Linked DNA regions of Homo sapiens. The protein of the gene in region 1 purifies or fractionates together with the protein of each later gene. This does not show direct contact. Each region holds a gene or a part of one and is shown on either strand. Other genes may lie near its edges. The genes, in order: SPAG7 and ACAT2.

Region 1 (3,365 bases):
GTGCTGGGATCGCAGGTGTGAGCCACTGCGCTCAACCAATTTTTTAATTTTGTAGAGAGAAAGTCTCACTATGTTGCCCAGGCTGATCTTGACCTCCTGACCTCAAGTGATCCTCCAGCCTTGGCCTCCTAAAATGCTGGGATTACAGGTGTGAGCCACTATGCCCAGCCCGATTGCACTCTTAAAATACAGCATCTTACAAAACCCTCTGGGCCGGGCACAGTGGCTCACTCTTGCAATCCCAGCACTTTGGGAGGCTGAGGCGGGCGGATCACCTGAGGTTAGGAGTTAGAGACCAGCCTGGCCAATATGGTGAAACCCCATCTCTACTAAATGTACAAAAAATTACCCGGGTGTGGTGACACATGCCTGTAGTCCCAGCTACTCAGGAGGCTAAGGCAGGAGAATCGCTTGAACCCTGGAGGCAGAGGTTGCAGTGAGCCGAGATCACACCACTGCACTCCAGTCTGGGCAACAGAGAAAGACTCTGTCTCAAAACAAACAAACAAACAAAAAACCTCTGATAGTTCCAACTGGCCATCTTTAACCTACACAAACAGCAATTTTATGCTGTTCAACTGAAAATTATTCCCCTTCTTCTCTACCAGTGGTTCCAGGACCCACCTTTCTGTGTATAAACAAACCAGGACATTGGGTTAAACAGTATTTATTGAATGTAAAGTACCCCAGCCCCATGGGGAAGAAAATTCCAAGAACGGGGAATAATACAGATTAAATACCCACCTGTGCATTCACACTCTCACACACACACACACATGCCACGCACATATCCAAGCTCCAACGGTGACAAATCAAACACCTGTTTTCCCCCAGCCTGAGGGACAGCTGGTAGGAGGTGGTTCAGAGGTGGGGCTCCAGGATGGGCTCTAATAGCAGCAGCCTTGTCTCTCCCTGCCCCCTGCCCTGCCCCAGGGGTCAAAGGGAGCTGGGCGGGGCGCCTAGGAGGTTGGCGGCAACTCTTCCCCACTCTGCCGCAGACGCTTCTTGGCTCTGATCTCATTCATAGCCTCTTCAATGGAGCGTGTGTCCCTCTTATTGGCCACGGGCACTAGGGGCAGAGAGGAGGGTAGGGCGGGCCTAGAAATCCGTACCTCAGCCTCCACTGCCCTCCTGCCGCATCCTATGCTCCTCTCCCAGCCACCCCCAGCCGCACTGTGGCCTCACCACAGCCGTAGGTCTTATTGGCCTGTAGCATGTGGGCTGCGTCTTTGGCTGCTCCCTTGCCGATGAGGTGGCTGTACTTGTCCTTGTAGTCGCTGGCAGGGCTCACCACCACAGGCCCCTGCTGGGCTGCCTCCTCCTCTTGCCTCTGGGCCAGCTCCTAGGGGTGAAAGTGGGGGCACTGGTGCTCAGGGCCCCAGCCCAAACCCCCACCCCTCCCAGGTGGTGGGCTTCTGGACCCCAAGGGCTGCAAAGCATAGCTCACCTTCAGCTTCCGCTTCTCCTCAGCCTTCTGGGGGTCCCATTCCTCTCCACGACGGTAAGAGTCTAGCTCTTCATCTGAGGGTGCAAACTCCTGAAGAAGAGCAGAATGATGGGGTCAGAGTCCATACAAATGTTTCATTTCATTCCTTGGTCGGGGAGGGGGGATAAGGCTACAAAGGGGAGAGGAGAGAATGAGGAATTCAGGCCCTTTACCTTTTTGAAGATCATGACATAGCGACAGTCATCATCTTCCCCAAAGGAGAAGGATGTCAGGCCAGCCACTTCCACCACATCATGTCTGGGATGGGATGGCAGAGGGGAAAGAGCATCTTGAGCCAGGAGCGGGCCTAGTGCCCTCCTCTGGAGGAGCCCCCCGCTGGCCCTTTCATGCCCCGCTAGCCACCCATTTCCTTCCTCCCCCAGCCCAGGGACACTCACAGTATGCTCCTCTCGATCTTGTTCATTGGCTGAAACTTTTTCTTGATCTGCCCACTGTCTTGAATGAAATCTGACACCTCCTTCTCCATCTTGGGAGAGGGGAAAGGAAGCAGATATGAGACAATGGCTCCACCCAAGTACCCCTCTCCCTAGCTGAGCCTGGGCCCTTCTACGCCTCCCCAGCACCCTCCCCAGCCTCCAAGCCACTGGCTTCCATGCGTCACCTCTCTCAAGACATTTTCAGCAAAACTGAGTCCTCAACCTTCCAATTTTAACTTATTGGAAGTCCTTCCTGAGTCTGCCTTTGATCACTCCAGTTGTTCTCACCCTTTTACGAAACTCCACTTTCTGTTGTTTCTCTTGCTCTTGTAGTTTCTTCAGGCGGGCGGCCTGTTCTGGGGGTGAGAAATGGCAACATGAAGCCAGGGCTGGAAGCATGGGTGGGAAAGGTTTCTAAGGCTTCAAGTGAAGTGTGGTGTCCACTGGGAGGTGTCAGGCTGGGAAGGTAGGATTAGCGTTTATTCATCAAGCATTTATTGATGTTTATTCTATCTAATAGTCCCCCTTATCCACAGGGGTTCATTCCAAGACCCTCAGTGGATGCCTGAAATTGTGGATAGTACTGACCCCTATACATACTATGTCTTTTTCTATACATACATGCCTATGATAAAGTTTAATTTATAAATTAGGCACAGTAAGAGATTAAGAATAATAGACCAGGCATGGTGGCTCACGCCTATATCCCAGCACTTTGGGAGGCCGAGGCAGACAGATCTCCTGGGGTCAGGAGTTCGAGACCAGCCTGGTCAACATGGTGAAACCCCATCTCTACTAAAAATACAAAAATTAGCCGGGTGTGGTGGTGGGCGCCTATAATTCCAGCTACTGGGGAGGCTGAGGCAGGAGAATCGCTTGAACCTGGGAGGCAGAGATTGCAGTGAGCTGAGATCGCGCCATTGCACTCCAGCCTGGGCAACAAGAGTGAACTCCGTCTCAAAAAAAAAAAAGAGATGGCCGGGTGCAGTGGCTCACACCTGTAATCCCAGCACTTTGGGAGGCCAAGGTGGATGGATCATGAGGTCAGAAGATCGAGACCATCCTGACTAACACGGTGAAACCCTGTCTCTACTAAAAAAAAAAAAATATACAAAAAATTAGCTGGGTGTGGTGGTGGGCGCCTGTAGTCCCCACTACTCGGGAGGCTGAGGCAGGAGAATGGCGTGAACCTGGGAGGCGGAGCTTGCAGTGAGCAGAGATGGCGCCACTGCACTCCAGCCTGGGCGACACAGCAAGACTCCATCTCAAAAAAAAAAAAAAAAAAAAGAGATTAAGAATAACAATAATACAATAGAACAATTATAACAATGTACTGAAATAAAAGTTTGTGGCTATGCTCTCTCTCTCTCTCAAAATATCTTACTGTATATAACAGTTCTGGACTGCAGGTAACTAAAACCTTGGAAAGCAAAACCTTGGAT
Region 2 (3,819 bases), on another chromosome or scaffold:
GAAATTCTCATTCTCATGAAGCTCGTAGTATGCTAAATGCTAGCATTATTAATTGTGTTAGCACCTCATTTCTTTCTTTTTCTTTTTTTGAGATGGAGTCCCACTCTGTTGCCCAGGCTGGAGTGCAGTGACGCAATCTTGGCTCACTGCAACCTCTGCCTCCCGGGTTCCAGTGATTCTTCTGCCTCAGCCTCCCAAGTGACTGGGATTACAGGTGCCTGCCACTGTGCCCAGCTAATTTTTGTATTTTTAGTAGAGATGGGGTTTCAACATGTTGGCCAGGCTGGTCTCGAACTTCTGACCTCAAGTTATCCACCCGCCTCGGCCTCCCAAAGTGCTGGGATTACAGGCATGAGCCACCATGCCCAGCCCTGTACCTCATTTCTTCTTTTTCTTTTTTTTGAGATGGAGTCTCACTCTGTCGCCCAGGCTGGTGGAGTGCAGCCGTACAATCTCGGCTCACTGCAACCTCTGTCTCAGGTTCAAGCAATTCTCCTGCCTCAACCTCCTGAGTAGCTGGGATTACAGGCGTGCACCACCATGCCCAGCTAATTTTTGTATTTTTAGTAGAGAGGGGGGGTTTCACCATATTGTCCAGGCTGGTCTCAAACTCCTGACCTCAAGTAATGCGCCCCCCTCCCCCGGCCTCCCAAAGTGCTGGGATTACAGGTGTGAGCCACTGCTCACAGCCTGAGGCACCGCACTGGGCCTGTCTTTTTAATATGTATATGATCCTGCATATGTTTTCAGTCTCAAGTAACCTTACCCGTTTTTAGTTTCCAGCCTAATCCCAGATTGATAACATTGTGATGAATATAATCTCTAAGTTTTTATCAGCGACTTATTTGCTAGTTCTTCCCCACAAACTCTCCAAGGAAGGGTGGTAGGTTTGAGTATATCTGAAACTGGGAATAGAGTAACCACTTTATAAACATTTACCATTGACTCTGATAACAGACAATGGCGATTGAGAATATTTGAAACTTTTAACTCCATTCTCTTCTGTGCTACTTTAAGTAAATTATGTATTTCTTCCCAACTAAAGGAAGTCCCATAGTTGAATTATGAAAAGATATTTGTGTTTCAGTACTCAGAATGAGAAAAAAAGGTATTTGTGAATTCTGAGTTTGTATATATTTTGTTATATAACCATTTAAGCATAGTGTAATGAATACTAAGCAAGAACAGAACTGCTTATTATCAAAGGTTTTCCTTTTTAAGTAACCCTTTTTCTTCTCAAGTGTCTTAAGCCATGATCTTGGGAGCAAATGGCCCTAGTTAGAAACACTGATAATGCCTAGGTTATATCCTGTGTTTATTAGACATAGGTTTGATAATGCTTATTTAAGCACCCCCCCGCACTTTTTTTTTTTTGAGACGGAGTTTCGCCCTTGTTGCCCAGGCTGGAGTGTAATGGTGTGATCTCAGCTCACCGCAACCTCCGCTTCCCAGGTTCAAGCAATTCTCCTGCCTCAGCCTCCCTAGTAACTAGGATTACACTCATGCGCCACCACGCCTAGCTAATTTTGTATTTTTAGTACAGACAGAGTTTCTCCATGTTGGTCAGGCTGGTCTCAAACTCCCGACCTCAGGTGATCTGCCCTCCTTGGCCTCCCAAAGTGCTGGGATTACAGGCATGAGCCACCGCGCCCAACTATTTAAGCCATATCAAAAGATGAGGATGACACTTCTTTCTTAATGTATTAATGACTTATTTATGGAGGAGAAAGCTTATATCTATGAAATACCTACAGAGCAGCACAAGGCAGTATATATTCAAGGGCTAGACTGTGACAGGTGGAGAGTGTATACAGGCCTTTTTGCCTCCAGTGGGCACTTACTTGACCTGTAGGCTTTCAGAAGTGGCAGGTAACCCAACTGGCAATTTTCCACACACTTTCACTGTGACATTTTGTCTTTCTCCTTGATTGCTAAGAGTCCTCTGTGTTCCTCTTTCTAGGCTGTGGGCAGAATCCTGTTAGACAAGCCAGTGTGGGTGCAGGAATTCCCTACTCTGTTCCAGCATGGAGCTGCCAGATGATCTGTGGGTCAGGCCTAAAAGCTGTGTGCCTTGCAGTCCAGTCAATAGGGATAGGAGACTCCAGCATTGTGGTTGCAGGAGGCATGGAAAATATGAGCAAGGTAAGGCCTCTCTGATGAGGTGGCTTTCACTGACCTCACACTGAGAAACTCATGTCTATGCCAGAACAGAGTAAACAGATGCATAGCAGAGCTGGAACCAAACAGTGAACAAATAAACAGAAATGACAACCTTGATCCCTACTTGAATGTGAAGTATTCTTCAGTTTGGGTGGGAAATCCGGGTTGATAAGAAGTTTATCAACCAGTGTGATTGGAACCGAATATACTTTTTCTAAACTATTAATGAAGCATGTAATATTTTCTGAATTAAATTCATATTAGTTGCTTGATGTCCTTGGTTTTAAATTTCTTTCCCATTGTGAGTAAAAGGCAAAAAACAGATGTTGCCACTTACCTTCCTGCACATGACAAGGAGATCCTGGGGACCAGACTTTTTGACCTTTTCAGGGTATAGAACATGTAAAAGAGGACCACCAAGTGGTGCCCTTCTCCAGTAGGTTTGCCAGGCATGATTTGTTTCACCAAGTTCCATACCTCAAACTGGCATAGTGGTTGAAAGAAAAACTATACCCCCTGCTTCCTACTGATGCAGCTCAGGGGCTGAGGTGCAGATTCCCTAGATAGAAGCTGATTCAGCCCAGCCATTGCTGAGGTTCAGGAGGAGGCAGGCTAAAGGTAACAAAAATAATCGGAGTGATTTTGATGGGATGATACTGACATCTGTGTAGTACTTTACCAGGTGCTTTTGTACATGTGTTCACAACAGCCCCATATAGGGTAGATGATACCATTCCCAGTTTACAGGTAAGGAAACTGAGGACCAGAGCCAGCATTCAAATACAACTCTTCCGACTCTAAGTCCAATCAATGACTCTTTCCATTCTAATATACCTGCTGTTGAGTTGGTGAGAGTTAAGACTGGCCGCTACTCAGAAATCCCTCCCCATCATTTAGTTAGCCTGATTATTCTCACTGTAGACATTATGTCATCCATTGAAATAGGTAACACATTGTTAGCTTTACTTAAGCCCTTAGAGGATTTCTTCATTTAACAGATAATTAATTGCCTCGATGGAAAGAATAAATGGAATTCTTAAGGAAACAGGACACAGAATGGGTAGGTTTGAGGGAGAATTGAAAATGGGTAGGTAGGAGAGTAATCGTTCCCAACAATAGGAAAGATGAAGTCTGCTAATTCCAGGGGTCTTTAGACCTTGGCCTGGCTGAGGACCTAGAACTGGGGAGAAGGGCTGCAAAGGGGCCTAGATGAAGACTTAGGAAATACTAGATAGTTTTGAGTTGTATTCTGGGGAGAAGACTAATTGCAACTAAGCCTAAATCCATTTTTATTTCTGACTTCTAGGCTCCTCACTTGGCTTACTTGAGAACAGGAGTAAAGATAGGTGAGATGCCACTGACTGACAGTATACTCTGTGATGGTCTTACAGATGCATTTCACAACTGTCATATGGGTATTACAGGTAAGGCAGACATGGCTGAAACTGTATTAGCTTTAAAAAGGTTAAAAAGACCATATACTAATCTGCTTCTTAGGTGCTTTCGTCCTTATGGCCAGAGACTGTCTTAAGGATTTTTATATCTCTTCTTTGATTAACTGAAGTGAAGTAAGTATTCTCTTCTTTGTGAACTCTTGATTATCAGAGAATGTTAGAAGTGGGAAGTACCTCAGAGTTCTTCTGGATCAACCCCTCATTT

Evidence for each region.
Region 2: the proteins of SPAG7 (region 1) and ACAT2 fractionate together in Homo sapiens (co-fractionation; one large-scale study listed by BioGRID). This does not show direct contact.

Annotation. Positions count from the first base shown.
Region 1 is NC_000017.11:4,958,575-4,961,939, forward strand, and holds the end of SPAG7 (sperm-associated antigen 7), read right to left. Parts: intron 2,280-3,365; coding exon 2,212-2,279; intron 1,974-2,211; coding exon 1,885-1,973; intron 1,745-1,884; coding exon 1,660-1,744; intron 1,538-1,659; coding exon 1,448-1,537; intron 1,343-1,447; coding exon 1,186-1,342; intron 1,070-1,185; coding exon 960-1,069; 3' UTR 652-959; downstream 1-651.
Region 2 is NC_000006.12:159,765,045-159,768,863, forward strand, and holds part of ACAT2 (acetyl-CoA acetyltransferase, cytosolic), read left to right. Parts: intron 1-1,960; coding exon 1,961-2,142; intron 2,143-3,466; coding exon 3,467-3,584; intron 3,585-3,819. UniProt on the Homo sapiens protein: Involved in the biosynthetic pathway of cholesterol.